Homo sapiens: one gene and its partner. The protein of the gene in region 1 purifies or fractionates together with the protein of each later gene. This does not show direct contact. Each region holds a gene or a part of one and is shown in the gene's direction. Other genes may lie near its edges.

The links.
Region 2: the proteins of MIS18BP1 (region 1) and HJURP purify together in Homo sapiens (affinity purification with western blotting, with the first as the bait; one study listed by BioGRID). This does not show direct contact.

What each region holds. Positions count from the first base shown.
Region 1 is NC_000014.9:45,246,590-45,250,391, reverse strand, and holds part of MIS18BP1 (mis18-binding protein 1), read left to right. Parts: intron 1-253; exon of another isoform or gene 254-361; intron 362-3,014; 5' UTR 3,015-3,105; coding exon 3,106-3,649; intron 3,650-3,802. UniProt on the Homo sapiens protein: Required for recruitment of CENPA to centromeres and normal chromosome segregation during mitosis.
Region 2 is NC_000002.12:233,841,036-233,844,535, reverse strand, and holds part of HJURP (Holliday junction recognition protein), read left to right. Parts: intron 1-252; coding exon 253-331; intron 332-2,330; coding exon 2,331-3,500. UniProt on the Homo sapiens protein: Centromeric protein that plays a central role in the incorporation and maintenance of histone H3-like variant CENPA at centromeres.

The sequences.
Region 1 (3,802 bases):
AATGGAGCTTCAGATGTGTCCTGGATTATCTAGACCCAGTGGTTTTTCTTGTTTATCTATTCTGCAGAGCCTCTGTGGTCAGAGGAAATTGTAGACGATTTTTTTCTTGGCTTATATTGAGTTGCTGTTTATCACATGGTGGGAAAAAGGTCTCCTAGAGCAACTTTCTGTTTCTTTGGGAGGGGAAGTGGAATTTGAGGATTTTTTCAGAATCTTGGCTAATCACCTTTATCCTACTACTTGCCTGAATTAGGGGCAGGGACATTAGGAAACAGAAAGCTCTGTTTTGGTTCTTGGAGCCTTTCAACGTGACCACAATTATCTGACTTTAAATGAAGACAGTTCTGCATGTCCATTACAGGTTGGTTCTGTTTTCAGTGCTGCTCGCTTATTTGCATTTTTTACTTTCTGTTTAGCATTTCATTAGGCTCTGAGGAATTGAGATTGTGTAAACCTGAACATTCTTTGCCATTTTGTTTTGCAGTCTTCCAGTTTATTTTTATTATTATTATTATTTTCAGTTGGAGTCTCACTCCGTCGCCTAGGCTGGAGTGCAGTGGTGGTGCGATCTCAGCTCACTGCAACCTCCGCCTCCCAGGTTCAAGTGATTCTCCTGCCTCAGCCTCCTGAGTAGCTGGGACTACAGGCATGTGCCACCACATCCGGCTAATTTTTACATTTTTAGTAAAGACGGGGATTCACCGTGTTGGCCAGGCTGGTCTTGAACCCCTGACCTCAAGTGATTCTCCTGCCTTGGCCTCCCAAAGTGCTGGGATTATAGGCGTGAGCCACTGTGCTCAGCCGAGTTTATTCATTTTTGATTTTGAGAGATTGTATAGCTTTATTGCCTTTCTTTGAAATGAACAGCTAAGCCAGACATGGTGGCTCACTCCTGTATTCCCAACACTTGTGGGAGGCCAAATCAGAAGGATCACTTGAGCCCAGGAGTTTGAGACTAACCTGGGCAACATAGGGAAACTCTGTCTCTACAAAAAAATGTAAAAAAACATAACTCAGGTGGCTCATGCCTGTAATCCCAGCACTTTGGGAGGCTGAGGCAAGTGGATCACCTGAGGTCAGGAGACCAGCCTGACCAATATGGTGAAACCCCGTCTCTACTAAAAATACAAAAATTAGCCGGGTGGGGTGGCATGTGCCTGTGATCCCAGCTACTTGGGAAGCTAAGACAGGAGAATTGCTTGAACCCATGAGGTGGAGATTGCAGTGAGTCAAGATCGCATCACTGCACTCCAGCCTGGGCAACAGAGCAAGACTCCCTCTCAGAAACAAACAAACAAATAAGTAAAAAAAAAAAAACATAGCTGAGGTGCAGTGGCACACACTTGTGGTCCCAGCTACTCTGGAGGCTGAGGTAGGAGGATTGCTTGAGCCCAGGATTTCGAGGTTGCAGGGAGCCCTGATCACACCACTGCACTCCAGCCTGGGTGACAGAGACACTGTCTCAAAAATAAAACAGAAATGAAGTGAACGGCTAATATTATAACTTCTAATACAGAACCCCTGGAACTAGCACATCATAAACATATACATGCATGCGTTAATATGTATTTGCAGGATTCGTATGTTATGAAAGAATTATAGTGGTTTTTAGGAACTCCAGACTCCCAAGATAGCCTTCTTTGTTGGCTGTTGTAATTTAGGAATATTTTCCTTCTTTTTTTCTCTATTATCATAAATTATTGGATTAAATAATACTTTGTATATTAATTGCTTATTTCTCACAGAAGTTGCTGTAGATAAAGATACTTGATATTTTTTGGTCTGGCTATGTTAGAATTTTCTGTGATAGTTTTTTTTTATGTTTATATGATGTTAACTAATTGGAATAGTTATAAATTCAGCTATAAGAGATGCTGTAAATCTAGACTAGTAAGTTCCAGGCTCCTTGGATTGAAATGTTTTATTTATTTACCAAATATTAGTTAATGCAACTATATGGTTCCTTACCTAGAACCTTAATTTCTAGGTGTGAATAATAAAATTTATACATAAGAAACAAGTTGTGGCCGGGCGCGGTGGCTCACACCTGTAACCCCAGCACTTTGGGAGGCCAAGACAGGCAGATCACCTGAGGTCAGGAGTTTGAGACCAGCCTGACCAACATGGAGAAACCCTGTCTCTAGCAAAAATACAAAATTAGCCGGGTGTGGTGGTGCATACATAATTCCAATTCCAGCTACTCGGGAGGCTGAGGCAGGAGAATTGCTTGAACCTGGGAGGCGGAGGTTGTGGTGAGCTGAGATCACCACTGCACTCCAGCCTGGGCAACAAGAGGGAAACTCTGTCTCCAAAAAAAGAAAAAAAAAAAAAAAAAACGAAAGAAACAAGACTAAAACTACGTAAACTCAAGTACAGTATTTCTGCTAAAAATTCTAAATAGCACTACATTAAAAAAAATCAGAATGAAAACAATTTACCATTTATTTGAGGATTTTTCAACTAAGACCTTAAAATGTAAATGCTCTGGAGCATAAAAAATCAGGATTGGGTATTATTAACTAATTGAATAGTATTTTTTTAGCTTTTATTAGAATAGATCTTGTAGTTGCTGCCTTAAAATTTAACTGCCTAAAGGGAAAAATTATATTTGTGGAACTTTATCTTTTGTAACCTAATGTAGTGCCATATGCATATATCTTTTATTTTGTTTTATTTTATTTTATTTTATTTTGAGACAAGGTCTTGCTCTGTCACCCAGGCTGGAATGCAGTGGCACAATCATGACTCACTGTGGCCTTGACCTCCCAGGCTCAAGTGATCCTCCCTGCTCAGCCTCCCAAGTAGCTAGGACTACAGGCGTGTACACCATCACACCCAGCTCTTTTGTTAAGGAGACTTTAACAAAAATAAAATCTTAGTCTGATTTGTGATTATCTAGTATTGTTATGAACCAGTTAAACATTTTAATTAGTATAATGTTGTGGAAAGCAAATAAACTTTAAACATTTTCTGCACCAAAGCATGATAAAGGCTGATTTTACGTTGAACTACAGGTTTCTGTGGATCCCTTCTGAAGTTCTATCTGAAAATTGCGCTTAAGTGAATTTTCTGTTAGAAGAACTTGGTTGCTACTTTCTTGTCAAGATGATTGCAACACCTTTGAAACATTCAAGAATTTACTTACCTCCAGAGGCATCTTCTCAAAGGAGAAATCTACCCATGGATGCAATCTTTTTTGACAGCATTCCTTCAGGCACACTTACTCCTGTAAAAGATTTGGTGAAATATCAGAACTCCTCCTTAAAATTGAATGACCATAAAAAGAATCAGTTCCTAAAAATGACAACTTTTAACAATAAAAATATATTTCAATCAACTATGCTAACAGAGGCTACTACCTCTAACAGTTCTCTTGATATCAGTGCTATAAAGCCCAACAAGGATGGATTAAAAAATAAAGCAAACTATGAATCACCAGGAAAAATATTTCTAAGAATGAAAGAAAAAGTACTGCGTGACAAGCAAGAACAGCCATCAAGAAACAGTAGTTTGTTGGAACCACAGAAAAGTGGAAATAATGAAACCTTCACTCCTAACAGAGTTGAAAAAAAAAAATTGCAGCATACCTACCTATGTGAAGAAAAGGAAAACAACAAATCATTCCAGTCAGATGACAGTTCACTAAGAGGTTAGTTTTATGTGTTAGCTAAAAAGCTGTAATGTCTTAAGTGTTTAATGTTTCAGACACTGTTTTAGGTGCTCAGAATATAGCAGTGAACAAAATGGACAAAAATCCTTGCCCTTGTGTAGCTCATATTCACATGGTGGGAAGACATAATTA
Region 2 (3,500 bases), on another chromosome or scaffold:
GAAGTTACTGGCAGGTGAGTGGTGACTGTGGCTGGAAGCTATCCTGGAGACCACATCAACTGTCCAGATCTTAGTAGGACATATTTTCTTCCCACTGCCCGAAGCCTAGCTGGCCACTGTCACCACATTCACACGCTTGTCGACATGGCTGTGCTAAGATGCACAGTCCGCATCGTCAGGGGAGAACCCAGCTCCTTGCACCCAGTTGACACCTGGCAACTTTTTTCTTGTAACCACTGGCTCTGATTTCAGTGTGCAGGTAACAGAGCTGGAAGGGATGTACGTGTGACTCCGCTGCCTTCACTGGCCTCACCTGCCGTGCCTGCCCCCGGTGAGTGTGACATAGAAACTGTATGAACAGTGCGTGTTTCCTTCACTTTTGTTGGAGCTGCGTGGCCCCTCAGAGCTGCTCATACTGGCCACGCCATCATTTCCTGGTGTGTTTCATCAACATAACTTGTTAGAGATATACTTGGATTTCACTGGAAGATTAAGATGTTTCAAAATGAGCTGTTTTCTCCTCCACGTCTGCTCTTTATTCCAGTTTACTAGCTTGAAAAGTTTTGCATCTCCAGAAGCACAGGACTAGTACAGTGAACACCCTTCACTTGTTTCACAATTAACATGTTGTCATATCTGCGTTATCACCCCCTGCCACACACGTGCACACACAGTGTGTATTTATTTGCATTTGTGTATGCATTTATCCCTAAATGCCTCACACATACCTCCAAAAATCGGCTAATTCTCCTTTATGACTACAGTACGCTTAACACAGGCCAGAAATTGAACATTGATGCGGTACTGTTCTACCCATTGTGCCAGTGACGTCCTTTGCAGCCTTTCTGGTTTGCCTGATCGTTTCCGGACCCACTCAGGCTGGTACCACCGTTGCGTTTAGTCTCCCTCCATCAAGAGCGGCTCCTTGGCATTTTCTCCCTCATGGTCACCTTTCATATTATTGCCTTTCTTGAATAGCACAGGCCAGTAATTTTGCAGAATGTCCCTGAATTTGGACCTGATTGCTTCCTCGTGGTTAGGTTCACGTTAAACATTTTTGGCAAAATTACTACAGGGATGACGTGTCCTCTCAGAACATTTGGTCAGTCTGTCCCATTCTTGGTGACTTTTAGGCTGGTCATTGAGTTAAGGTAAGACCTTACTTCGATGTTTCTCATTGCGACAGGCCCTTTTTCCCTGGAGTCATCTATGTGTGATTCTTTGAGATCTCCTAGGAACCTTTTCTCTAAAAGCTTCTCACCCAGTGACTTAGAAGCCAGCAATGCGGATCGCCTGGGTGGAGGTCCCCGCCCAGGTTGTTTCTGTCTCTGCCGTTCCTTGGCACACGTCAGTTGGCATTATTCTGCTCAAAAGAGCTATCTCCCCTCTGGTTCTTTTTTTTGCTTCCTGTAGTTCCCTCTCATGCTTTGATTTATTTTATTTTTATTTTTTAGGATCAGTAGGAATTCATGGAGTCTTTTTGTTCTTTGATTCACATGTTATAATCCATTGCCGGTATGCAATTTGACGCTCAAGTAACCCCAGATTTAGCTGTCAGGGAGCCCCTTTCAGGCTGGCTTTTGTGTCGTGTAGTGCAACGACATGCGTTTTTGAGCACTTCTTCACCCCTGCCCTGATGCCATATCTGCCTCTCCCAGTTCTCACCAGCCGCAGTGAGTTAACACGTGCTCATCTGGTCAATTGTACAGCATAAAATAACTCTAGCATTGCAGCACCTGCTACCACTCTTCACAACCATCTACTAAATAAGCTTGAAAATTTCCAAGCAGCTCTTTTTATCCTTAGACAATATCTCTTTAAGAGGCAGACACTCAGAGTATTTGGACTCTTTTTTTTTCTCTTTATCAATTTAACATACAGATTTTTTTTTTGTTTGTGTTCAATTTTATGGTTTTTTCCCATCACTGTTGGTTTTTTTTTTTTAAATATAGGAAACATTTACATGATGCAAAAGTCAAAGCTATATGAAGAGGTTTGTTTAGAAGTCTTACACCCCTTCCCATCCATGTAGGTAAACAGTGTTGTCATTTTTCAGTTTCTAATTAGCTTTTGAAAAGGCATCCATCTTCTAAACAGCCTAGAGGGAAAGGAAGACACCTTTGGGAAATGTACGATGGAGAGTAGAAATCAAATTTTGATACCAAAAAATATCTCTGAGAAGAGTCTACTCCTACACATTTGTGGTGTTTTTGTTTTTGCTATTGCTTAAAAAAACATAGTCCTGATCCAATCTTAAGTTCTGTCATCTGTGCACATGGATGGTTTAGAATGGTAACACACCTTTACTTTATGTGTATCTTTTCTCCCAGGATACTGCAGTCGTATCTCCAGAAAGAGTCCTGGTGACCCAGCGAAACCAGCTTCATCTCCCAGAGAATGGGATCCTTTGCATCCTTCCTCCACAGACATGGCCTTAGTACCTAGAAATGACAGCCTCTCCCTACAAGAGACCAGTAGCAGCAGCTTCTTAAGCAGCCAGCCCTTTGAAGATGATGACATTTGCAATGTGACCATCAGTGACCTGTACGCAGGGATGCTGCACTCCATGAGCCGGCTGTTGAGCACAAAGCCATCAAGCATCATCTCCACCAAAACGTTCATCATGCAAAACTGGAACTCCAGGAGGAGGCACAGATATAAGAGCAGGATGAACAAAACATATTGCAAAGGAGCCAGACGTTCTCAGAGGAGCTCCAAGGAGAACTTCATACCCTGCTCTGAGCCTGTGAAAGGGACAGGGGCATTAAGAGATTGCAAGAACGTATTAGATGTTTCTTGCCGTAAGACAGGTTTAAAATTGGAAAAAGCTTTTCTTGAAGTCAACAGACCCCAAATCCATAAGTTAGATCCAAGTTGGAAGGAGCGCAAAGTGACACCCTCGAAGTATTCTTCCTTGATTTACTTCGACTCCAGTGCAACATATAATCTTGATGAGGAAAATAGATTTAGGACATTAAAATGGTTAATTTCTCCTGTAAAAATAGTTTCCAGACCAACAATACGACAGGGCCATGGAGAGAACCGTCAGAGGGAGATTGAAATCCGATTTGATCAGCTTCATCGGGAATATTGCCTGAGTCCCAGGAACCAGCCTCGCCGGATGTGCCTCCCGGACTCCTGGGCCATGAACATGTACAGAGGGGGTCCTGCGAGTCCTGGTGGCCTTCAGGGCTTAGAAACCCGCAGGCTGAGTTTACCTTCCAGCAAAGCAAAAGCAAAAAGTTTAAGTGAGGCTTTTGAAAACCTAGGCAAAAGATCTCTGGAAGCAGGTAGGTGCCTGCCCAAGAGCGATTCATCTTCATCACTTCCAAAGACCAACCCCACACACAGCGCAACTCGCCCGCAGCAGACATCTGACCTTCACGTTCAGGGAAATAGTTCTGGAATATTTAGAAAGTCAGTGTCACCCAGCAAAACTCTTTCAGTCCCAGATAAAGAAGTGCCAGGCCACGGAAGGAATCGTTACGATGAAATTAAAG